Linked DNA regions of Homo sapiens. The protein of the gene in region 5 purifies or fractionates together with the protein of the main gene of each other region. This does not show direct contact. Each region holds a gene or a part of one and is shown on either strand. Other genes may lie near its edges.

What was found.
Region 1: the proteins of DNAJC5 (region 5) and TTPAL purify together in Homo sapiens (affinity purification with mass spectrometry; one large-scale study listed by BioGRID and IntAct). This does not show direct contact.
Region 2: the proteins of DNAJC5 (region 5) and USP22 purify together in Homo sapiens (affinity purification with mass spectrometry; one large-scale study listed by BioGRID and IntAct). This does not show direct contact.
Region 3: the proteins of DNAJC5 (region 5) and DNAJC7 purify together in Homo sapiens (affinity purification with mass spectrometry, with the first as the bait; one large-scale study listed by BioGRID). This does not show direct contact.
Region 4: the proteins of DNAJC5 (region 5) and REXO2 fractionate together in Homo sapiens (co-fractionation; one large-scale study listed by BioGRID). This does not show direct contact.
Region 6: the proteins of DNAJC5 (region 5) and ECE1 fractionate together in Homo sapiens (co-fractionation; one large-scale study listed by BioGRID). This does not show direct contact.
Region 7: the proteins of DNAJC5 (region 5) and CSNK1G3 purify together in Homo sapiens (affinity purification with mass spectrometry; one large-scale study listed by BioGRID and IntAct). This does not show direct contact.

The regions. Positions count from the first base shown.
Region 1 is NC_000020.11:44,478,874-44,482,373, forward strand, and holds part of TTPAL (alpha-tocopherol transfer protein-like), read left to right. Parts: intron 1-556; exon of another isoform or gene 557-1,111; 5' UTR 1,112-1,126; coding exon 1,127-1,571; intron 1,572-1,702; coding exon of another isoform or gene 1,703-1,818; exon of another isoform or gene 1,819-2,650; intron 2,651-3,500. UniProt on the Homo sapiens protein: May act as a protein that binds a hydrophobic ligand.
Region 2 is NC_000017.11:21,005,012-21,008,511, reverse strand, and holds part of USP22 (ubiquitin carboxyl-terminal hydrolase 22), read left to right. Parts: intron 1-515; coding exon 516-642; intron 643-1,524; coding exon 1,525-1,616; intron 1,617-3,500. UniProt on the Homo sapiens protein: Deubiquitinase that plays a role in several cellular processes including transcriptional regulation, cell cycle progression or innate immunity.
Region 3 is NC_000017.11:42,010,940-42,014,439, forward strand, and holds part of DNAJC7 (dnaJ homolog subfamily C member 7), read right to left. Parts: intron 1-3,500. UniProt on the Homo sapiens protein: Acts as a co-chaperone regulating the molecular chaperones HSP70 and HSP90 in folding of steroid receptors, such as the glucocorticoid receptor and the progesterone receptor.
Region 4 is NC_000011.10:114,445,967-114,449,466, reverse strand, and holds part of REXO2 (oligoribonuclease, mitochondrial precursor), read right to left. Parts: intron 3,489-3,500; coding exon 3,380-3,488; intron 1,642-3,379; coding exon 1,588-1,641; intron 1-1,587. UniProt on the Homo sapiens protein: 3'-to-5'exoribonuclease that preferentially degrades DNA and RNA oligonucleotides composed of only two nucleotides. Binds and degrades longer oligonucleotides with a lower affinity.
Region 5 is NC_000020.11:63,901,626-63,905,125, reverse strand, and holds part of DNAJC5 (dnaJ homolog subfamily C member 5), read right to left. Parts: intron 1-3,500. UniProt on the Homo sapiens protein: Acts as a general chaperone in regulated exocytosis. Acts as a co-chaperone for the SNARE protein SNAP-25. Involved in the calcium-mediated control of a late stage of exocytosis. May have an important role in presynaptic function.
Region 6 is NC_000001.11:21,283,964-21,287,463, reverse strand, and holds part of ECE1 (endothelin-converting enzyme 1), read left to right. Parts: intron 1-3,500. UniProt on the Homo sapiens protein: Converts big endothelin-1 to endothelin-1.
Region 7 is NC_000005.10:123,571,177-123,574,676, forward strand, and holds part of CSNK1G3 (casein kinase I isoform gamma-3), read left to right. Parts: intron 1-2,216; coding exon 2,217-2,365; intron 2,366-3,500. UniProt on the Homo sapiens protein: Serine/threonine-protein kinase. Casein kinases are operationally defined by their preferential utilization of acidic proteins such as caseins as substrates. It can phosphorylate a large number of proteins. Participates in Wnt signaling.

The DNA.
Region 1 (3,500 bases), about 19 Mb from region 5:
CTGCCTCCCGGGTTCACGCCATTCTCCTGCCTCAGCCTCCCTAGTAGCTGGGACTACAGGCACCTGCCACCACGCCCGGCTAATTTTTTGTATTTTTAGTAGAGATGGGGTTTCACCGCGTTAGCGAGGATGGTCTCGATCGCCTGACCTCATGAGTCGCCTGCCTCGGCCTCCCAAAATGCTGGGATTACAGGCGTGAGCCACCGCGCCCGGCCCCCTAATTCTTTTTCATGACTGACTAGTACCCCATTAATATGGTAATATTACTTAACCAGTCTCCCCTGATAGGCAGTTAAGATGTTTCCAATCTTTTATCATTATAATCAATACTTGTGAAGGCCATGTGCATATTATGCATATATATACAAGTATATGTCCTAGAAATGGAATTGCTGACCCAAAGGGCATGTAGGTTTACATTCTGAAGATATTGACAAATGCCCTCCAAAGAGGCTGTCAATTTATACTCCCAGCAGCAGCAAGCATATTAGAGTACGTTTATTTTTGCCAATCTGAATCTGAGTTGTTTTTTTTTTTTTTTTTTTTTTTTTTTTTGAGAGTCTTGCTGTGGCTGGAGTGCAGCAGCGCCATCTCGGCTCACTGCAACCTCCACGTCCCGGGTTCAAGCAATTATCCTGCCTTAGTCTCCCAAGTAGCTGAGATTACAGGCACTCACCACACCTACCTAATTTTTGTATTTTTAGTAGAGATGGGGTTTCACCATGTTAGCCAGGCTGGTCAGGTGATCCGCCTGCCCCAACCTCCCAAAGTGCTGGGATTACAGCATATACATTACAGTTGTTTTAATTCACATTTATTTAATGATGAATAAGGTCGAGCACCTATTAATACATTTATAAGGAAGGCCCTGGTGTTTATTAGGGAGTGTATAGTCTGCTGTAGCTGCTGCCTGCCTCCCTGGGGACTAACAGCAGCCGGCCTGGGGTCAGACTTGCGTGTATGGTTTAGATCCAGTTCATTGCCCCCAGTTGAGAAACACTGCCCTGAGGTTACTCGGTTTTTACAGAAGTGTTCCTGTCCCCTACACTGTACTGCCCTAGGATTTGAAATAAGCACTTGTTAACTTTGCTTAGGGCTTCTCTGTTGGCAGGGACCTTGGTAGCTAATGTCCGAAGAAAGTGACTCTCTGAGAACCAGCCCTTCTGTGGCCTCACTCTCTGAAAATGAGCTGCCACCACCACCTGAGCCTCCGGGCTATGTGTGCTCACTGACAGAAGACCTGGTCACCAAAGCCCGGGAAGAGCTGCAGGAAAAGCCGGAATGGAGACTTCGAGATGTGCAGGCCCTTCGTGACATGGTGCGGAAGGAGTACCCCAACCTGAGCACATCCCTCGACGATGCCTTCCTGCTGCGCTTCCTCCGAGCCCGCAAGTTTGATTACGACCGGGCCCTGCAGCTCCTCGTCAACTACCACAGCTGTAGAAGAAGCTGGCCCGAAGTCTTCAATAACTTGAAGCCATCAGCCTTAAAAGATGTCCTTGCTTCCGGGTTCCTCACCGTGCTGCCCCACACTGACCCCAGGGGCTGCCATGTCGTCTGCATCCGCCCAGGTATCTCCCTAGACTGTTGTGGGGTGTGTGTGTCCAGTCCTTCTGCAGTGTGTCCATTCAGCACCCTGTCCTCCTTTCCAAGTCCCTTTTTTACCCCTCCTTTGTTATAGTCAAGGCTCTTTTGATTGCAGATAACACAAACCTACTCAAACCAACTTCAGAAAAAAGGGAGGATTTAGTCGAAGGAGACAGGAGTCCCTCCCAGAACCAGAGAGCTGAAGGCGTGGCAGCTTTTACTAGGGCCTAGAACCAAGAACCAGAATGCCACCAGGAGCCAAGACAGCCGTTCTCCCTGTCTCTGCCTGACGGTCTGTGTATCCTTCAGCCACACATTTCTGCCTTTTGCATATCTTCTTCACACTTTTTCTGTGTATGGCTGTCCCGCTCCTGTGCACGTAGTTAAATCTGGCACCCTCTCAGCTCTCAGGTTTGCCTGACCACCAAATTAAGTTCCTCAATGCAGATTCCCAATTTCTAGTGGGGAGCATCTGGTGGGGCCTAAGAATCTGCCCCTGGCCATAGGATACAAGCATGACTGCCAGGGCCCTCTCTGAGCCCTCTTTGTGAATAGGTTGAGGTACAGGTATCAGTGCAAGGGTGCGGACTGGGCAGACACCTGGAAAGGTGCCTCCTCTGTGCCTCCTCCAACCTTTCCTTCCTTTCCTCTATTTTGTGAAGCCACTGACAGGATTCACTTTGGATTTGTTTTTTGATCTTAGCATTTCATGGCAGTGATTAGGATACCTTACATTTCTTTGTCATGGTGGTTTACGAATGGGGGCTCCCTGCCACTAAAAGAGCATTTAGAAATACTCCCCTGCCAGGCGCAGCAGCTCATACCTGTAATCCCCGCACTTTGGGAGGGTGAGGGAGAAGGATTGCTTGAGGCCAGGAGTTTGAGACCAGCCTGGGCAACATAGTGAGACCTTGTCTCTACAAAAAATTTAAAAAAAAATGCTCTTTGGGGAGCATTTCAACACAATGACCAGGGGCTGCCAGAACTCAAGATTTCTGATTCTTAGGCCTGTTCTCTTCCATGACACCAAAAGCGTTATTAAACTTTGGAATGTTCTACTCCATTCCTAGCCTCAACATTTTCCATCAGACCAGAGCTGAGAGAAAAATGGAAAGTAAGATGCAATGTTCTCCCCAAGTAAGCCAGGGAATGAGAACACACTAATAGCCCTCTTTCGCTCATTCATATAAACGCCCTCTTGAAGGGAAGTTTGATGGGGAGTGGACACCTCCATGCACTTTCCTCCGCCTTTACTCATTCCCCAAACTCTCTTTGGAGGCTAAACCATTCTCTTCAGACTTTACTATGTATGTACCAAGACCACTGTTAATGGCTTACCTGCCATTTTAGGTACTTGCCAAAATTAGTGGTGTTTATTTTAAAATAAGCAATGCAGTGCAGATTTTAGGGCGCCAGGAGACTTAGAAACCAGTCAGCAGGTTTTTCTGCTGCTCCTCTGTACTCAACTCATAAGAATATTACAACACAGTCAGATATTACAACACTGATTGCACCTTTGCTTGTGTAGTTTCAACCCTTTGCTTGTGAGATGAATTTTTTCCCCATATGTCTGGAGCAGATCTGGACCCCTTTCCACTGACCCAGCGTTTTAGGAAGAGGCATACACAGAAAGGTTTCTTCTCAATTGGGTATCAGCTTTGCCTTTGTTAAAGCTCTTTTGAGACATGTGATTGAAAGGGATGATATCCAGTTACATAGAGGCAGGGTTAATTGGCAGCAACGTTAGACAGCAAGCTGGCACAATTTGGGGACAAAGATCTTTCACGAGAATTTTGCACATATCAGGTCAGGTGTGGTGGCTCATGCCTGTAATCCCAGCACTTTGAGAGGCTAAGGCAGGTGGATCATGAGGTCAGGAGTTCCAGACCAGCCTAGCCAACACAGTAAACGGC
Region 2 (3,500 bases), on a different chromosome or scaffold from region 5:
ATTGGCTTTTCTTGCACATCCTAATTCTCTGGGGACGCATCCAGGGTACAGCTTGGGATCAGTAGTTCCTTCCTTTTTTGCTGCTGTCTCATACTCCATGGTACAGTGTTCCACAGTTTCTTTAATTATTCAGCCATGGGAAGAAACGGGGTGTTTCCAGTTTTGTGACTCTCGTGAGTAACATTCTGGTGCACATTTGTGGACAGTTTGTGTGTGAACATTAGTTTTCATTTCTCTGGCTCAAATTCAACTGCTGGGTCATATGGTACTTAGAAAATTATTACCATTTCCCCAGGCCTTTCCTGGAAAAAAAATATTTAAGATAAATATTCTGTAGAGACAGGCAGCAAAGGTGGACAACATTTTCTCTTTTTTTCATTGTTTCATTTTTAGTTGTAAGTGTATGTTTTTGGTAGGGAAATCAACCCAATGAAAGAGATAAAATACCTCTTTCCTCTCATTTTTCTGTCTCTTGCATCTCCCTTACCGCTCCTGTCTTTTTTGAACGCCTGTAGATTCACCAGACCAGAGCACTTGGGCAGCAGCGCCAAGATCAAGTGCAGCGGTTGCCATAGCTACCAGGAGTCCACAAAGCAGCTCACTATGAAGAAACTGCCCATCGTAGCCTGTTTTCATCTCAAAGTAAGTTTTCCAGAAAGCCAACTCTAATGGCAGACTTAGTTTTTAGTCCACAGTACGGTCCTCAGCCTTTTGGTTTGCTGTGCAGTTACATTTTTTATAATTGCAGCAAGCAGGAAGAACACCGAGGAAGGGAGGGTGTGAGGGAATTGTCCTCCCATCTGTGAATTGTCCTTTTGTCTGTGCTGCGGTAAACAAAATCAGTGGCTTCGCAGTGAAAGTAGAATGTGAGTTTTCTTGGGAGCAGAGTGGTTGTGAAGTTTTTATTACTTCTACCATTCCTCCAGCTACCCCCTCCTCAGGTTTTCTGTTTTATTTTAAGACAAAGGCCCTCAGCATGCAGATCTGGTCCAGGAGTTGGCAAGCTCTTTCTCTAAAGGCCCAGATAACTGAAGATGTCGAGCTCCACAGGCTGCGTGCGATCATACGATTCTCTGTTACATGTTCTTTGTTTCATTTCACCACCCTTTAAACATGGAAAACGCCCATTCCTAGCTTGCTGGCTGGAATGGGTGACTCCTGATCTAGGCAAAGGACTGTCTTCTGTCTGGTGAAAGGAACAATTTGTTCATTTTTGCTGCCATGGGCCACGGATCTTTGTTTTGTTTTCTGTGCTTTGCTGGGTTTGCTGTAAGATTACTTTTTGTACCCTTGGTGTTACCACTGAACAGTCCCATCATTTGAAGACTTGAACCCTGTAAATGAGGACTTGGGTGGATTGCCACTGTGTTTTTGAATCTGTAATTCTAGATGTAGCTACAAGGCAGTTCAATAAAATACAAAAGAGATAACACAGACACCTGTCATCAGAAGAAGGCCCTGAAGCTTCCAGTGACATTTCTGATCTTCTTTCCTCTTCCCTCTGTCCCCTTCCTATTTCTGCAGCGATTTGAACACTCAGCCAAGCTGCGGCGGAAGATCACCACGTATGTGTCCTTCCCCCTGGAGCTGGACATGACCCCTTTCATGGCCTCCAGGTATGTGGGGTTGTAGGCCCGTTCTGTGTCCTGAGGGGCTGTGATCCTATCAGGACAGGAATCCAGCTCGGAGCTCCTATTAAGATGACTGTTGGCCGGGTGCAGTGGCTCCCGCCTGTAATCCCAGCACTTCAGGAGGTCGAAGCGGGCAGATCATGAGGTCAACAGATTGAGACCATCATGGCCAACATGGTGAAACCCCGTCTCTACTAAAAATACAAAAATTAGCTGGGTGTGGTGGCAGGCACCTGTAGTCCCAGCTATTTGGGAGGCTGAGGCAGGAGAATCGCTTGAACCCAGGAGGTGGAGGTTGCAGTGAGCCAAGATCGCGCCACTGCACTCCAGCCTGGTGACAGAACGAGACTACGTCTAAAAAAAAAAAAAAAAATGACTGTCGATACTAATATAAACCCCACCTTCCCCAAATCTGTTTATCCTGATCTTAAGATACAGCACATGTTAATGAGTTGTTTTTCATCAGATACCCTGTTTTTGTTTTGAATTTCTCAACAATTATCAATCCACTTTCAAACCGGCAAAGTCCTCAAGGTGGGATCACAGCGAGAAGGCAACATTTTAGTTCGTGGAACAGATGTTGAAGTACAGGCAGACATAGTTGGTTTTGCAGTTGTAGATTGCATTTTCCTTTTCAAATCTGCCTATTCTGGGGTACTTGGAATTCAGCTGCTTACTAATGCATGAGACACATAGGAGTTTCCTGTGGTTCTGTGACAAATGACCAAAAACCTGGCGGCTTAAAATTAATTTCCTCACAGTTCTAGAGGTTGGAAATCTGAAATCAAGGTGTTGGCAGGGCTCCATGTCCTACAAGGGTCTTGGGGATTCCATTCCTCACCGCCTCCAGCTGCTGGTGGTTCCACGTGTTCCTTCTGTGGCTGTCACTCCCCTGGCTTCCGGGTCACATGGCCAGCTCCCCTGACTCTGTGTCCAGTTCCCTCTGCTTCTCTGTCATGACCGTGGTCATTGGCTTTAGGACCTAGGCAGATCATCCAGGAGGATCTCATCTCAACATCTTTACTTTGAGTCTCTGCAAAGACTGGTTTTACAAATGAGGTCCCAGTCTCAGGTTCTGAGGGTTGAGACGTGGATGTTGTTATTTGCAGGGTGTTATTTTTTGGTGGCCACAGTCCCAGCCCCAGCACCGTGGAAAGCATGTTGCTTTTTGGTAGTTAGCGGCCTCTTCCTGGTGTCCTCTCATGGCTGTCCCACCCCTGTGGCACACAGATGACCTCCTGAATAAAACAAGACCAGAGTCAGAGCTCCATATCATCAGTCTGACCACGATGGTCACGTACTGAGGGAGGTGACAGTACTGTTCTAAGGTCAGGGTCTCAAAGATCTTGGTGTTTCCTGCCAAACACAGCTGTAGGAAAATGCAGTAAATAATGTGCATGGCTTCCTGTTCCCAGCACTCCTCTCCCCCATCTCACCAGGGGAGGTGCTGGTCATGAAATAATGAGCAGCAATCTTTGTCCCTTTTGAGGAGGCACCTGCCTAGGTTGTAGAATGGATTCAGCGTACCCTTTCAAGCTAACCCTTTACATGTGGGAGGAAGAGCACCTTCACCATCTGCTTTGTCACAAACCAAACTCACATTCCTCCAGATCCAGCTCCCATTACCAGCCCTATTCAGGACCCACCTTGGAAGAACCAGGGGCCACGCCAGGTGGCCTCAGGACCCAGGTGTGCTCTGAGGCAGGGGCCTCCACAGCTTGAGCGTCAGTGTCCTCACGAAACATGGGGAGATTTCTGCCTGAAGCATAAAGTGCACCTCGGTGCAGCATCTGCATGGTCAAGCTTGGATAAGTGTTGGTTTCACGAGAGCCTTGTGTCTCTGGGCCTGATGATTTTAATGATGCTGAA
Region 3 (3,500 bases), on a different chromosome or scaffold from region 5:
TTTTGATCCGAATGGGAGAAGGAAAAACAGTGTCACTCCAATAAAATGAATAGCCTGTTAGGATAACTGCACTTTGAATTTTGTTCTTACTTCAAAAGTTTAAAAGAATACCTGGAAAGACCTCTGAGTAACTTCCACATCACTCAGTGCTGGAGAAAGGGGACCAAAGACTAGTGCAGTAAGGGAGAAATGGGCTCTCAGAGGGACTCTGCATCAGGCCACAAAGCAACTAGGCAACTGCTGACTATTGTTCTCCAAACTTCTAAAGTCCCGAAGAACAAAAAAGCAAGTGCCCAGTACTCAGCTTTTCAAAACCATTAAAATACAAACTTCAATGACTAAACTAATCCCTGATTGGCTGGAATGTACAATAAGGCTGGGCTTTCGGCCAATCAGAGTTCTGTTTGTTGGGAGTGGACTGGACTCTAAGCAACTGCCACTCACTTGGCCCTATATTTTCTCAAAATTCTTGTTTCTCTGGCACTAGTTAACATGTGGATCTGAACTAAAGCACTAAGAGAGAACCTTTCTCTGTACTCTACCTTTGCTCCAGTTATGATTATCTACTTTGCCATCTGTTAGTATCAGGGTTCAATTAATTTGCCGGTATTGAGAATTCTGTATTCCTAGGTTTATCCCTTCCTTAACTTATTTCTCCTCCCATCTCCCATTTCTTCACATCTGACTACACTTAGTGCACAGCAAAAGGAAAATAGTGTTTCTCACTGATTTGGGTTCCAGGTCAAAGATAAATTCCCACTCAGTTTGGAGGCTTACTGAAATGTCTAGGTGCTTGCTCTGAAACTTCAAGAGGAAGATTAGAAGGACACATTCCTAAGAATTTAAAACCAGGTAAGGAAGAAAGCTGGGGAGGCATGCCCACAAGCTCTTCAGTTAAGTGAGGCCACAAACTCAAAAACACCATGCAAAGCTGCAGCAAACGAACAGCAACTACAGGAAACCCGGGACATGAATTGAGAGTTCAGTTGTTCCCATTAACAATCTGAATAGAGAAATAAAAGGCAAAATCCTAATCGCAAAGAGTGTACAATACCTAGGTAGTAAGGGCCTAATAAGAATTGCTCTTATTTGTGCCCATCAGGAAAACATACAGAGAAGTTAAGTTTATCAGCTCAAGGAATCAGGTAAGGATGTCCTGACTCTTAAGTCTATGGATCCCTTGATTCTTTTAGATCTTGTTGTCCAGTCACACTAGGTATATGCTGAGACACGTAAGTGTTTTCTCTTTGAAAAACAATTTGAGGTTGGGTGTAGTGGCCCACGCCTGTAATCCCAGCACTTTGGGAGGACAAGGCGGGCGGATCATGAGGTTAAGAGATCGAGACCATCCTGGCCAACATGGTAAAACTCCGTCTCTATTAAAAATACAAAAATTAGCTGGGTGTGGTGGCACACGCCTATAGTCCCAGCTACTCGGGAGGCTGAGGCAGGAGAATCATTTGAACCCAGGAGGCGGAGTTTGCAGTGAGCTGAGATCACACCACTGCACTCCAGCCTGGTGACAGAGCGAGACTCCGTCAAAAAGAAAAGAAAACAATTTGAAATCCCTCAAGTTTACCATAAGAAAGACTCCCTATAGAGATCAAGCTGTTTCCCAGCCCAGGAGATATAACAAGAGATCCTTAATTCAAGACAGGTATTCCCATATTAGGTAAAGCAGTCAGCAACTTCCCAGGAAAATATAAAGCCTTAAGTTAGTTGAAATGTGAAACATCTGAAGTTTAACCCTCTGGCTCATAAATAGCTTTGCCTGTTTTGGTGAGCAAAGAGAAATAATCTTCATGCATAGAATCCTGATCTGTTTTGGAGTGCCAACTAATATATCTTTTATTTTAGCCCCAACCCTTTTTTTTGAGACAGGGTTTCACTCTGTCACCCAGGATGCAGTGCAGTGGTGTGATCGCAGCTCACTGCAGCCTCGACCTCCCCCAGCTCAGGTGATACTTACACCTCAGCGTCCCAAGTAGCAGGGCCTACAGGTATGCACCATCACACCCTGCTAATTTTTGTATTTTTTTTTTACAGAGATGGGGGGCGGGTTTCACCACGTTGCCCAGGTTGGTCTCGAACTCCTGGCCTCAAGCAATCCACTGGCCTCAGCCTCCCAAGGTGCTGGAATTACAGGCGTGAGCCACCGCACCCAGCCTTAAATGTTTTTATAGAGACTAAGTCTCACTATGTTGCCCAGGCTGGTCTCAAACTACTGGGCTTAAGCGATCCTCTCATTTTGGCCTCACAAAGTGCTAAGATTACAGGCATGAGCCACTAAGCCTAGCCTTATTTTAGTTTCTTGGCTGCTGTAAGGGAAACAGAACTTTGTCAGAGTGACATGCAAAAAAATTGAAATCCATCTCTTTTCTCTACAGAAACACTAAAGCTAAGGAAATAAAACATGTAGCCATTTAAAATGCTGCAATCGTGAAGTCCGTCTTAAAAGCTCCTCTCATTTTGCCCCCCTATGGGACTGTGACAACTTAGCAGCAGCAGGACATGTCTTAAGCCAAGACGTAAGGAAGGAAGGACTCCTTACAAAGCTGGACCTCACAAAAACGACCCGAGAGACTCATTAACTCTTGATCCCTAAATGAACTGGTAGGAGGACCATAACAACAGAGGCAGGAACTTGGCCAAAGAACTCTAACCAAGCCAGACAGTAAAAGGGCATTTGTAAGGGATGCCCCTATCACTGCCCTCTGCTATGGCCACACAAGAGGAATCCAGGACACATGAAAAACATAAAACCACCTCCCTCCAAAGCTTCTAAATCTCCATCCCATTTTCAGCACTGGAAAAATCATACATAAACAAGGCTTTTTCATACTAACAGAGCCTAATGTTTATTCTTTTTTTTGAGACAGAGTTTCACTCTTGTCGCCCAGGTTGGAGTGCAATGGCACGATCTCGGCTCACCGCAACCTCCGCCTACCGGATTCAAGTGATTCTCCTGCCTCAGCCTCCAAGTCGGTGGGGCTACAGGCATGCACCGCCATGCCTGGCTAATTTTTTTTTTCTATTTTTAGTAGAGATGGGGTTTCTCCATGTTGGTCAGGCTGGTCTCAAACTCCCGACCTCAGGTGATCAGCCTGCTTTAGCCTCCCAAAGTGCTGGGATTATAGGCATAAGCCACCGCGCCCGGCCAATGTTTATTCTTCTAAGGATGTCTGATATGGCAAAAAGTTAAACTGATTTTTTTGTTTATTTCACTTATTTTCCTTTTTTTTTTTTGAAATGGAGTCTCACCATGTCGCCCAGGCTGGAGTGCAATGGTGTGACCTTGGCTCACTGCAACCTCCGCCTCCCGGGTTCAAGCGACTCTCCTGCCTCAGACTCCCGAGTAGCTGGGATTACAGGTGCCCACCACTACGCCCAGCTATTTTTTCTATTTTTAGTAGAGATGGGGTTTCACCATGTTGGCCAGGCTGGTCTCAAACTCCTGACCTCGTGATCCGCCCACCTCAGCCTCCCAAAATGATGGGATT
Region 4 (3,500 bases), on a different chromosome or scaffold from region 5:
AGGAAGCTGTCCTATATTTCTAATTTATTAATTTTCTAAAATTAATAAATTTTAGTATTTCTAAAACTTAATCGACCACATTTGTAGAATACTTATAAACAGTTCATGGAACACAGTTTGAGAAACATTGCCCAATACTTGATGATGTCCCTCAACAAAACAGACTGACACACTTGAACATAAGTCATGACTCAGTCATCATAATAAACATCAATTATCAAACAGTACCTAACCATACCAGAGGATCTACCTCCTCTCTCATGGTGATTTGTGCTATAATCAGTGGCAGCCTGCCTCCATCTAAGAGCCTTTCTTTTCTTCCAATATGTTGTTTCTCATCTGTTGTATTCTGAGAAATCAGGTAACCAAGATTATTAGAACAGTGTGCAAGTAAATCAATAAACTCTGAATCATGGGCCAAGGGCCACTTCTAGAGAATTCCCTGCACAAATTTTAGTGCAAGAGTTTTATGACAATTATTTGTGTGGCTAAGGCAACCATCTGCTTTCTTTCCAGGACTTGGATATATGTCAGAGCCGAAGCTGCCAAAATTATAGCCTCTGGCTAAATAAAGGCACACAATATCTTATCCACAAAACTGAAATCCAAAACACACCTGAAAACCCACAGTACTTACAGAACCTATTATGTAGCAAAACCTGAGCAATCTTAATGTGAGGCTATTGACAGTCATCATTACTTATGCCATTTGGTGTGAATATACACGTTTCACTGCAGAATACCTATGTGTTTTATTATGGGCTGCTTCTCAAACCTTGTTAGGGATGCTACAAGATAATAAACAATACAGATGTAGTAACACCTTTCTAAAATCTGAAAAATTCTGAAATCAAAACATACCCCAGTTGTGTCAGATAAGGTAGTCTAGGCCTGTATGCCTGTGCTACAGTCTACATACACTCAATAAAATAATGTAAGAATGCCAGACTCTTTAGGGATTGGTCTTTCTCTATTTGCCTATAACTGTGCAAGGTACATCATAGGGGTTCAGTAAATGGTTTAATAAATGCTACCCTTAGAAGCCAGCTGCTAAACCTCCCATCAGGTTTCATGTTTCTCCTGAAAGACTACAAAATCAAAAAGAAAAGAACCAGTACAGGACACATGAATATACAAGATCTTTAAATTCCTTGTCTACTTGTACCTAAGGCTACAGACATAAGAGAAACAATCAGAAAAACTATAACAAGTGTCAAAGTAGGCAACTGTATTATAGAATTGCACACAAAAAGTGTTCTAATTTCAAAAGGCTGCAAGTCCATATCTTCTGTGGGAAGAAAGTTAACACGGTTCATTACTAGAAAGATTACAGATTGTTTCATCATTCCTATAAACCAAGCTATCTAAGAGTTTTGAAACAGCAATAAAGGCTATATAACCCTCTCAGAATGGAACACTGGAATCCTGACCAGAATTCCTAACAGTAAAAGAATGTTATGTTTATGCTAGTTGAACTTTATCTTTTCCCCGAGAAAAAAGAGTTAAGGGACATTATTTCAAGCAGTCAGGAATTTGGGAGTTAAGTGTGTGTCAGACTGGAAAACGCTTGGTAGAACTCAAACTTACCTATGAGAAGCAGCCTTCTTTGGTGCAAATTCATATTCTTCTGGATACCAGCGTCTATACACAGCAGAAATGGAACTCTCAAAGGAAGCTGTCTCAAATATACTGAACAATTACCTCCTTCAAGTAATCCATTAACATTGAAAATGGCATTTGAGTCATGATTCTCAAGTTGCTTCTTTGCCGGGGCCTCTATCTTCTACCCTCTCCTCTCTTTCTTCTATATATTTTCTATGAGCAAGCTCATCAGTGTGTAAGATTGCTAAATCTGGAAATCCAGCCCAGCCCTCCCTAGAGTTTCTGTCATGGATATGCAACTGCCCACTAGATATCTCCATCTAAAAATCTACCAGACACTTCTAATTCAACATACATCAAAACACACCCACCATTGTCAACACCTCCCCTGCCCCATCCACCATATCTACTCTTCTTCTTCTCCTTTTTATTTGAACACTGCCATCATCCACCAAAGCTGCTCAAACTACAAACATCAGAATAACATTATACCTCTTCCTTTTCACACCACCTCATTCGAACACTGAGTGTCTGTCAACTGACCCTCTCACATTTTTATCATACAAGCCCCTCATTTCCATGCCCTGCCCTTTCTCCAGTTCATTCTTCTCCCCAAGATGGCAGAAAAGCCTCCTTTCAGGCCGGGCGCGGTGGCTCACGCCTGTAATCCCAGCACTTTGGGAGGCCGAGGCAGGCGGATCACGAGGTCAGGAGATCGAGACCACGGTGAAACCCCGTCTCTACTAAAAATACAAAAAATTAGCCGGGCGCAGTGGCGGGCGCCTGTAGTCCCAGCTACTCGGGAGGCTGAGGCAGGAGAATGGCGTGAATCCGGAAGGCGGAGCTTGCAGTGAGCGGAGATCGCGCCACAGCACTCCCGCCTGGGCGACAGAACGAGACTCCGTCTCAAAAAAAAAAAAAAAAAAAAAAAGCCTCCTTTCTATCTTTCTACCACTTTTCTTGCCACCTTCGAATCAGAACGATCGTTATCACTCACTCTTCTACCTACACTTTCTCAAAGGAACCCCATTCCTTGCAAGATCATAGTGAACTTCACTGGCATGGTGTGCAAGCTCTTGAGGCCCTAGAACCACCTCCCACCTTCTCCAACCTCATGCTTTGCACTCCAGCATTAATGAATGCTTTGGGATTCATTTAACACATTTTGCCTTAGCTTCCTGCTCCCTCACATTCTTATACTTCTGTCTGCTCTCTCTGAATGCTCTCTCCTCAATAAAATGCCTGCAAGACTTCCACTCTTCTTCACATCTCAATTTCAAAGCTATTTCCTTGCTATGTAAAGGTTTCTCTGACTCCCCATTCCTCTTGCTCCAGCACAGTTAGATGCTGCTTCCCTTGTGACCTCACTAGTCCATACGCACATTTTCACTATAGGAGTCATCATAGAGTATATTTTCAGGGTGCGTTTTTTTACACATATGTCGATCCACTATTTTCTAAAGTACTTAAGAGCTTTTCATCTATATGTTCCCAGTCACAAGACTTCCACATAATATTAGTTAATCCAGAAAATGTATTGAGCACTTATTTTGTGCCAGGCATTGGCTTATTTACTGGGAACATGTCTGACGTTGTTGCTCCCAATTCTCACCAGTCCAGGGTAAGTTAAGGTCCTATACAAGCAAGAATGGGATGAGGAAGATATGAACCCACTTGGTAGCCTTAGTTCTACAGCTCTATCCAATTACTTTCCACAAATTCTCAATTAAAACATGCTAAATGAGGTAATTTAATGGATCCTAAATATAGCCCTTACCTGCACAGTTCTTTAACAGTGCTCACATCAATTATTCTATAATGAAGATGTTTCATGAACTGGGGCATGTATTTGTCAAGAAACTTCTTATCTTCATGAACTGAATTTCCTAGAAAGACAC
Region 5 (3,500 bases):
AAAGACAGGAAAAAAAAAAAAAAGCCAGGCACGGTGGCTCACCCTATAATCCTGACACTTTGGGAGGCCGAGGCAGGCGGATCACCTGATGTCAGGAGTTCGAGACCAGCCTGGCCAACATGGTGAAACCCCCGTCTAGACTAAAAATACAAAAATTAGCCGGGCGTGGTGGCGGGCACCTGTAATCCCAGCTACTCTGGAGGCTGAGGCAGGAGAATCGCTTGAACCCGAGAGGCAGAGGTTGCAGTGAGCCGAGATCGCGCCGTTGCACTCCAGCCTGGGGTACAACAGCGAGACTTTGTCTCAAGAAAAACAAAAACAAACAAAAAAACCCCCACAGTTTATTAATCTGCCTTATTGTCCTTTGCCTTTTAAAAATATAAGATAAGCCTGTTTAAGGCTTTACTGGGAGGCAGCTGTCAGTCAGCCAGCTGTTCTGGAGTCAGTCCAGGGCAAAGGCTGCTGTAGGAACAGCATTAGCACAACTTTGCCTATTTATCCTTAACCAGAGCAGGTTTACAAGGATGCCTATACCATGAACACCTGCACGCATCTCAGTCCGCCCACCTGGAGGTCAGACACACTAAGAGGCAGCTGGACCAGCTCCCTGTTCAAGGCCACTTCAGATTCTATGTGAGTTACAGTGCCCTTGTCTTAAAGTATTTTCATAAATGTGAATTAAGCAGTGCTCACACCAGGGAGAAGGATGCTGTGAGTCTGTCTGTTGGTCTGCTGGTGACAATCAGTTAGGGTTACCCAACCTGGCGGGATGATGCAAGAGAAAACAGCACCAACAGAAACCACATCGTAAGAGGTAATTTTGGGGAAAAAAGGGTAATTTTGTAAATCCTGTGTTGTCACTTTAACATGTATGATGACATTATTTGTGCTTATTCTTCAATATTATACCTTTATACTCGAGAATCTAAAAAACTGTTTAAGACCCACCCTGCATGGCTGTCCTGGGGATTACGGCTAATGCATATTCGGCAACCTTGTCCCAGAACACCTGTTCAACAAACCACGGTTTGCCTCATTTCAGAGTGTTTTGCTATTTGGACACGGGGTATTCTTTTTCATCCCCCACTGCAACCTCCGCTTCCCAGGCTCCAGGGATCCTCCCACCTCAGCCTGACCTCAGCCTCTCGAGTAGCTGGGACCACAGGCATGCACCACCACGCCCAGCTAACTTTTGTATTTTCTGCAGAGATGGGGTTTCCTCATGTTACCCAGGCTGGTCTCAAATTCCTGAACTCGAGAGATCTATCCACCTCAGCCTCCCAAAGTGTTGGGGTTACAGGTGTCAGCCACTGCACCTGCCCAAATTTTTGTATTTTTAGTAGAGACGTGGTTTCGCCATGTTGGCCAGGCTAGTCTCAAACTCCTGGCCTCATGTAATCTGCTTGCCTTGGCCTCCCAAAGCACTGGGATTACAGGCTTAAACCACTAAGCCTGGCCAAAAATGTTTTTAATTTTTTAAAAATTTCTATACGAAGAGCCTTATTAAAAGTTTGAGATGGGCCGAGCGCAGTGGCTCACACCTGTAATCCCAGCACTTTGGGAGGCCAAGGTGCGCAGACCATGAGGTCAAGAGATCGAGATCATCCTGGCCAACATGGTGAAACCCCGTCTCTACTAAAAAATACAAAAATCAGCCGGGCGTAGTGGCGCATGCCTGTAGTCCCAGCTGCTACAGAGGCTGAGGCAGGAGAATCGCTTGAACCCAGGAGGCGGAGGTTGCAGTGTGCCAAGATCGCACCACTGCTCTCCAGTCTGGTGACAGAGACTCCATCTCAAAAAAGAGAGTTTGAGGTGAGTCAGTGAGGTGGTGCGTGCCTACAATCTCAGTTACTGAGGGTTAGGGTGATTCTAATCTACTGAGACTGTAGGCATGCACCACCTTGGGAGGCTGAGGCAGGAGGATCGAGCCCAGGAAGGCCAACCTGGGCAACATGTGGAGGCCCCATCTCTACAAAAATTAAAACATTAGTCAACTGTGGTGACACATACCTAAAGTCCCAGCTACTTGGGAGGCTGAGATAGGAGGATTGCTTGGGCCTGGGAGAATGCAGTGAGCTAAGACTGTGTCACTCCTCTCTAACTTGGGTGAGAGACAGAGTGACACCCTGTTGTAAAAAAAACAGGATGTGGCAGGGCGCGGTGGCTCACGCCTCTAATCCCAGCACTTTGGGAGGCCGAGGTGGGCAGATCACGAGGTCAGGAGATCGAGACCATCCTGGCTAACACGATGAAATCCCGTCTCTACTAAAAATACAAAAAACATTAGCTGGGCGTGGCGGCGGGTGCCTGTAGTCCCAGCTACTCGGGAGGCTGAGGCAGGAGAATGGCATGAACCCAGGTGGCAGAGCTTGCAGTGAGCCGAGACTGAGTCACTGCACTCCAGCCTGGGCGACAGAGCAAGACTCTGTCTCAAAAAAAAAAAAAAAAAACAAGATGAGGCCAGGTGCGTTGGCTCACGCCTGTAATCCCAGCACTTTGGGAGGCCGAGGTGAGTGGATCACCTGAGGTTGGGAGGTCGAGACCAGCCTGACCAACATGGAGAAACCCCATCTCTACTAAAAATACAAAATTAGCTGGGTGTGGTGGCACACGCCTGTAATCCCAGCTACTCAGGAGGCTGAGGCTGGAGAATCACTTGAACCCAGAAGGCAGAGGTTGCGGTGAGCCAAGATCACACCGTTGCACTCCACCAGCCTGGGAAACAAGAGTGAAACTCCGTCTCAAAAAAAAAAAAAAAAAAAAAAAAGATGAGGCCAGGAGCAGTGGCTCACGCCTGTAATCCCAGCACTTTCGGAGGCCGAGCTGGGCGGATCACAAGGTCAGGAGATCGAGACCATCCTGGCTAACACGGTGAAACCCCATCTCTACTAAAAATACGAAAAATTAGCCGGGCGTGGTGGCGGGCGCCTGTAGTCCCAGCTACTCGGGAGGCTGAGGCAGGGGAATGGCGTGAACCCGGGAGGCGGAGCTTGCAGTGAGCCGAGATCGCGTCACTGCACTCCAGCCTGGGCGACAGCACAAGACTCTGTCCCCCACCCAAAAAAAAAAAGCATTATTATTTTAAAGAACACATCAAGAAAGAACTAACAAAATTTATTGCGACTGGCAAAAATGTAAAATCTCAGATTTTAACAGCTAGTCCTATCGCAGCAGCTAAAAGAACACCAAAGTGCTGTGGTAAAAGGCCCCGCAAGCAAAGGGGAAAGACAGACACCATCTGAGGGCTACGAACTTGGCAAGAGATGACAGAAGCTACAGTCTGTACTCCTGGACCCAGAATTTCCTTCGTTATTTGTCTTAGGGAAACCTTCTTACAATAAAACACAATCCTATTTAATAAAGAAAAATCCGATGGGACTGCTCAGCAAAGATCCAAACATTCGCTCTGCTGCTAATCCCTCCCAATAACAGGAGGAGCAAAATAAAAGCCAGGCAGGGCCGCACACTCCACACACTCCCTCTGCTGAGCTGCAGTCACT
Region 6 (3,500 bases), on a different chromosome or scaffold from region 5:
ACCTCCGCCTCCCAGGTTCAAGCAATTCTCCTGCCTCAGCCTCCGGAGTAGCTGGGATTACAGGCGCACGTCACCACGCTCGGCTAATACTTGTATTTTCAGTAGAGACAAGGTTTTGCCATGTTGGCCAGGCTGGTCTCGAACTCCTGCCCTCAGGTGATCTGCCTGCCTCGGCCTCCCAAAGTGCTGGGATTGCAGGCATGAGCCACCACATCCAGCCTGTGCTCTCAATTTTAGACTTTTTAAAACAGACCCTTCATCCCAAATCTTTTCTCTTGATGGACAGCTAAAAAATAAGCTATTTGATTTTTCAAGATTTTGAAGTCCATTCGTTTTAGGAAGTCCCAAGTGATCAACACCAATAACTAATAAATGAACACTTCCATTTTTCAGCCAAACTTGACACATTTGTTACTTTATTACTTGCCACATTTATTTATTTTTTATTATTGGACCTGCTGGCCAATGTTGAATTTAACCAGAGCAAAATTCTACCTGTACCTCACCTGAAAGGGTTTTTCTTTTTCTTTTTTTTTTTTCTTTTTTTTGAGACAAGGTCTCACTCTGTTGGCCAGGCTGGAGTGCAGTGGCGCAATCTGGGCTTACTAGCAGCCTTGACCTGTGATTCTCTCACCTCAGCCTCCCAAATAGCTGGAACTACAGGCATGTGCCACCATGCCTGGCTAATTTTTTGTATTTTTAGTAGAGATGGGGTTTTGCCATGTTGCCCAGGCTGGTCTCGAACTCCTGGCCTCAAGTGATCCTCCTGCCTCAGCCTCCCAAAGGGCTGGGATTACAGCCACCGTGCCTAACCTGTTCTTTTTCTTTATCCCATATTTTAGGCACAGATTACTTGCAGTCTACTAAAGTGAGTCACTCTGAACCAAGCACAGAATTCAAAGGAAGCTGGCTCTAACTTGGAGCCCCAGCTCTGTCTCTCCTGCGCTGTGAGACCTGAAAGCAACTCACTTCCACAGCTTTCTTTGTAAAATGGGGTTAATATTATTAGCCCACCTCTCAGAGCTGTTGCAAAGGCTCAGTGGGACAGTATGAGGGAAAGCATTTTGGATAATGCTTAGAAAATGGATTTGGTTATTAGGTTATTACAAGGATTATTACAGAAACTCACTATGAGTGACATGATATAATAATATACATCTAAATATGCTAGCTTTTGCTCTGAAGCCTCTTGCTCTGCCAAAGCCAGCTGCCTGATCTTCCCACACCTGAACATACACCATTTTCAGCGGCAGGAAGGGATATAGCTGAAGTTACACCTGCAGCCTGAACTGAGGAGCAGATGGCCATGTCTACCAAAACCTTTGAAATTCATTCAATTACTTCTAAAAATCTTTTTTTGTTGTTGTTAAGAAAAAAAGAAAGGTGAGATATTAAATTCTTAGTTATAGTTTTCTCATTTTTTTCCCACCTTGCACAGGGCTCTCTTCTCTTCTCTTTTTTTTTTTTTTTTTTGAGACAGAGTCTTGCTTGTTGTCCAGGCTGTAGTGCAGTGGCACAATCTCAGCTCACTGCAACCTCCACCTCCTGGGTTCAAGCAATTCTCCCACCTCAGCCTCCCCAGTAGCTGGGATTACAGGCGTGCGCCACCATGCGTGACTAATTTTTGTATTTTTAGTAGAGATGGAGTTTTACCATGTTGGCCAGCCTGGCCTCAAACTCCCGACCTCAGGTGATCCACCTGCCTCGGCCTTCCAAAGTGCTGGGATTGCAGGCATGAGCCACTGTGCCCAGCCTTTTTTTTTTTTTTTTTTTTGAGGCAGGGTCTTGCTCTGTTGCCCAGGCTGGAGTGCAGTGGCGTGATCATGGCTCACTGCAGCCTTGAATTCCTGGGCTCAAGCGATCCTCTCACATTGGCCTCCCAGAGTGCTGGGATTACAGATATGAGCCGTCATGCCTGGCCAAAGCTGTCTTTCCAGGGTGATTTCAGGGACAAGCCCGCTCAATACTTTAAAAAGACATGTCTGTTTACCTGGAGTTGTTATCAACTCTGTTTGCCTATTATATAGCCTTGAGGTTTGAGAGTCTGAGAAGTCACACCTGGGACCTCAATCAGCCTCCTCATTTTAGAGATGGGAGACTGAGGCCCAGAGACTGCCCAGCAACACACAGTGGGATATTTGACTTCTCAGGGTTACCATCTTTCTCCCATGCTGTGGGGAGCTGGGTGTTCCTTCTGGGAAGCGATGAAAGTTGGAAAGTACTTGTAAATATTAGCCTTTGATTCTTGCTAAGATGTGAGGAGTGCCCTCCCCTACAACGGATCATATTTTAAGCTGTTACCAGTCATTTAAAGTCAGGCATCTGGGTGGGGTAGCAGACAAGGCTCAGGCAGAGACAAGAGGACACAAGGACTTGAGAATTTTGCTCTGGACTGACCCCATTGCCTCAGCCAGAAGGCCACCTCATGGAAACTTTACTGGAAGAAACTTCCCCAAACTGACTTTGGGGAACTTTCGGAGGCAGGGTTCCTCGCAGGCTGGGCTGTCACAGTCGACTTGCTCTCAAAGGCTTACTCCAGGGAGCCTGGTGCCCCTGCCAGCGCTCCCAGGTGGCTGGGTTTCTGGGCTGCAGAGGGGTGGGATCCCTGCCAGACCCTTGCCCAGACCACTCCCATTGCTGCTTCGTGCAGCCCAGGTTGCTGGGTTCTGCCTTCCCTTCCGACCTGACTCTGAAAACCTGGCTTCACCTGGCTCCCCACCCTTTCTGCTCCCGGCTTGTCTCGTGGGCCCCAGGCAGCAGGCCCCATCCTCACCTGCAGAACTTGTTCTTGCTGTAAGCCTAGGTGAGCCAAGCACTCACTTCTGTAACCAAATATGTGTCCCGGATTAGGGCTTTGTTCCCTTGGCTGTGGAAACCCTGGGAACTCCTGGCTGGATAGCGCTGCTCTTTTTCCCTTACTCTAGCTCTCTCGCTCTTTCTGTTTCTCTGGCTCTCTCATTTCTTTGTCTCATTCTCCACCTCTCTCTTTTGAGGGCACCCCCTCCTTCTCATTCTCTTTCTGCCTCCCACGACAATAAGTAGGAAATTAAGCCCACCAGCGAGCTGAGCATCTGCAGTGATTCTGCATCTTCCAGGCATCAGCGCTGCCTCTTAGCGGATGGCCATTTCACAGTCCCCTCTCCTGAGATGGACTGGGCTGCCTGCCACCAATCCTCCTACCCTCCAAGCTGCTTAGGCCAGTCTCCCATGCTTGACGGGACCTCATTTCCAAAAGAAACGTAAGAAACCAGTCACATCTCCCCATGCTGTGACCTCATCTCACGGATCCCCTCCACAGTCCCATGAAGGAGGCTGGGCAGGTGCGACAGGGATGCAAAGAAGAGACTCAGCCGAGGCCAGCGGCCATTGGAAGCAGATCGGTGCCCTGACTCACGGCCCAGCCCTTTCCATTGCACCCAGGAATTGGCCACCCTGCCCTGGAGAGGCCTCCTGATCCTGGCCTAGTACCTCTAGGTGACTTCTCCTGCCCCAGGGTGAGG
Region 7 (3,500 bases), on a different chromosome or scaffold from region 5:
TTGGGGTGTATCAGAATCTCTGTTTCTGGGGAGGGCACCATGTATGCAGTTTGAATTTGTATCCATTCCTGCTATGATTACACTATCTTTTTTTGTTTGTTTGTTTTGTTTTGTTTTGTTTTTTTGAGAAGGAGTCTTGCTCTGTCGCCCAGGCTGGAGTGCAGTGGCGCAGTCCCGGCTCACTGCAATCTCCGCCTCCTGGGTTCAAGTGATTCTCCTACCTCAGCCTCCCGAGTAGCTGGGACTACAGTGATTACACTAGCTTACATTCCCACCTGCAGATGTTCTGCTGCCTCACTCATATTCATATCTGAGAAATACTTGTCTCATCCAAATCACTAATATTATAATAGATAAGTAAACTGAGGCCCACTTGAGAGGTTGAATGACAAGCTAGCCACACAGCTGATGAATATTAGGTTAGACTAAGAATGTAGTTTTCTTGGTTTTTAGTTCAGTGTTTTCTATTCTGTCCTGCAATGATTTATATTCAAAATAATAGGGTAAATAATAATAATGTTATATTTAAAAAACGTTTTATTAAAAAGAATGAGAAGTTTTCATTAGATTTGTTTTCTCTTTCAATATACTGAAAAAAAATCACTTGGAAGTAAAACTGAGACATTTGTGGTGGAAGAAGTTCATTTTTTCATGCTAATAGATAAATGCAGTGTTAAGTGTCAAACTAAATAATAGGGAGACTTGTCTAAAAGAAAATGATAGTTATTTACGAGTGGGCATTACAATGGGAATATATGTGAGTATATTCAGGGAGGTAAAGGAAGACAAGAGTTTTTAAAGGAAAAATGAGGAGGGTCACATAAGTTGTTTTGAGAGAGTTACCCTTGGCTACAAGGATCATTAACAAGAATGGCCTCAGTCTGAAGTTGGACAGGCAGTTCCTGGGCAGATGTCCTCACAGAGTAATTTTTTGTAAAGTTGTGGTGGCTTTTGTTCCAGGTTGTGGTTTTTGCAGTCTTTTGTGGTAGTTCTTCTTATCAGGCATATATATATATATGTGTGAGAACCCTCCCTTCATCTCCTTCCCTAGCTCTGTTTGTCAGGGTTTTAATACAAGTGACTCTGTTTTGATTCTGACAACTTCCATATAAAGTAAATTGATCACTTACATTTCAGTTTATTGGGAGTCTGTTAGTTCTGAAAATAAAATACAGATGACTTCATATTTGGAGTTTGTATTATTCAGACTTCATATTTGGAGTTTGTATTATTCTATATAGCTTCATAATGAATTATTACTATCTCTTACTGGCTTAAGATGAAAGACTTTATTATCTCACAATTTCTATGGGTCAGGAATACGGGCATGGCTTTGCTGGGTCTTCTGTTTAGAGTCTTACCATGTGGAAATTAAGGTGTAAGCCTGGACTGCAATCTTACATGAGCCTCAGTGCTCTCTTCCAAGTTCACTGATTCTTGTCAGAATTCAATTCCTCATGGCAATAGAACTGTGTGGCCCTTACTTCCTCAAGGATTCCTATCTGGCATGTGGCTCCCTCCACTGCATGGTGGTTTGCTACTTTAAGGCCAGCAGGAGAGTTTCTCTGCTGTTTCCAATATCTCTGACTTCTAGACTATCTTTTTAAAGTCTCACCTGAATAGGTCAGGTCCACCAGGATTCTCTTCCTTCTGATCAACTTACAGTCAACTGATAGGAGCCTTAATTACATTTGCCGTATAAGTTAGCCTGGTCACAATAGTGAGATCCCAGGAATCATGCTCACGTTCAAAGGGAGGGGTTTATACAAGGTGTATAAGCCAGAGGATGGGAATCTTGACAGTGGTGATCTTAGCAGTATGCCTATCACATGGTTATTAAAGCCAGTAGTGACTCTCTTTTCAGTAGAACTGGAATCTCTCCTATGTGCTAAGCCTTTCTCCAGGCCATGGAAATATAAAGCTAAAAAGCCCAGCTTTTGTCCAGTAATAAGGTGGTAGAGAGAAACAATGAAGTACTGTTTATAATGTAATTCAGTCATGCAGCTGCAATAGAGGTGTATCCAGGCTACAATGTGAACATCAAAGAGAAGGTATTGGGAGGTTGGGAGGTTTGGTCAGGAAAAGTATGTATCTGGAAAAAGTGATAGTACTGCTTTAGTTCTTGAAACTATAAAATTTTAAATATCAGTTTTTAAGAGGAAAACCTTAGTATTTAAGATGATGAAATTATTAAATGAGTATTTCTTTTCCCCCAGATGGTATACCTCAAGTTTACTATTTCGGCCCTTGTGGTAAATACAATGCTATGGTGCTGGAACTGCTGGGACCTAGTTTGGAAGACTTGTTTGACTTGTGTGACAGAACATTTTCTCTTAAAACAGTTCTCATGATAGCTATACAACTGGTAAGTAAAATAAGGTATTTGAAGTTGTTTGAACAATTACATGGTTGTTGGTCACAAATTCATATTAAAAGTTTAAAGTTCTGTGATATTGTCTTACAGAGCGTTTGACGTAATACAAATGTTTCTACTTTTCATGTTGTCTTTCTGGGATCCATGTAACTTAAAATAACTGAGTCAAGTATATTTTATTTGTATAAAAACTAATAATTGCTTTAAGATCAAAATGCTCAGTTTGCAAATTAAGTTGTTGCTAGCCATTTCTTCATATAAAAGATGATTACTTCAAAAGAGAACCCTCAGAAACATAGATTTTTTTTTTTTTTTTTGAGACGGAGTCTTGCTTTGTTGTCCAGGGCGGAGAGCGGTGGCGAGATCTTGGCTCACTGCAACCTCTGCCTCCCGGGTTCAAGCAATTCTCCTGCCTCAGCCTCCCGAGTAGCTGGGACAACAGGTGCATGCCACTACGCCCGACCAATTTTTTGTATTTTTTGTAGAGACAGGGTTTCACCATGTTAGTCAGGATGGTCTCGATCTCCTGACCTTGTGATCCGCCCGCCTTGGCCTTCCAAAGTTCTGGGATTACAGGCGTGAGCCACCGTGCCGGGCCAGAAACATGGATTCTTAATTTTGGTAATAGACTTTATGACCTGGAAAAACAAGAGGCAGACTAATGAGAGAGTCTTGATAAACTACTTAGACTTCAGGGAATCCGTTGGATAACAATTAGAGAGTGATTTTAAGGCAGTTTCGAAATAAATGCCAATAGAAGTGTGCTGCAGAAGTCTTAAAATTGTTTTTATTCATTGACTCATTAATTCTACAAATTTATCCTATGGATGTTTTCATAGGTACTTAAAGCTTTATATGAAAGGATGTTTATAATAAAAAAAGGAGAAGCAACCCAAATATGCAGAAATAACAGGGTTAGTTGAATAAATTAATATCCAGAGGAAAATATGCAGCTGTTAAAAAGTGCATATTAAAGATTGTTTTATAGGCTAGGTGTGGTGGCTTGTGCCTGTAATCCCAGCACTTTGGGGAGTCTGAGGCTAGAGGATCACTTGAGCCCAGGAGTTCAAGATCAATCTGGGCAACATAGTGTGACTCTGTCTCTACAAAAATAAAAATAAAAAAA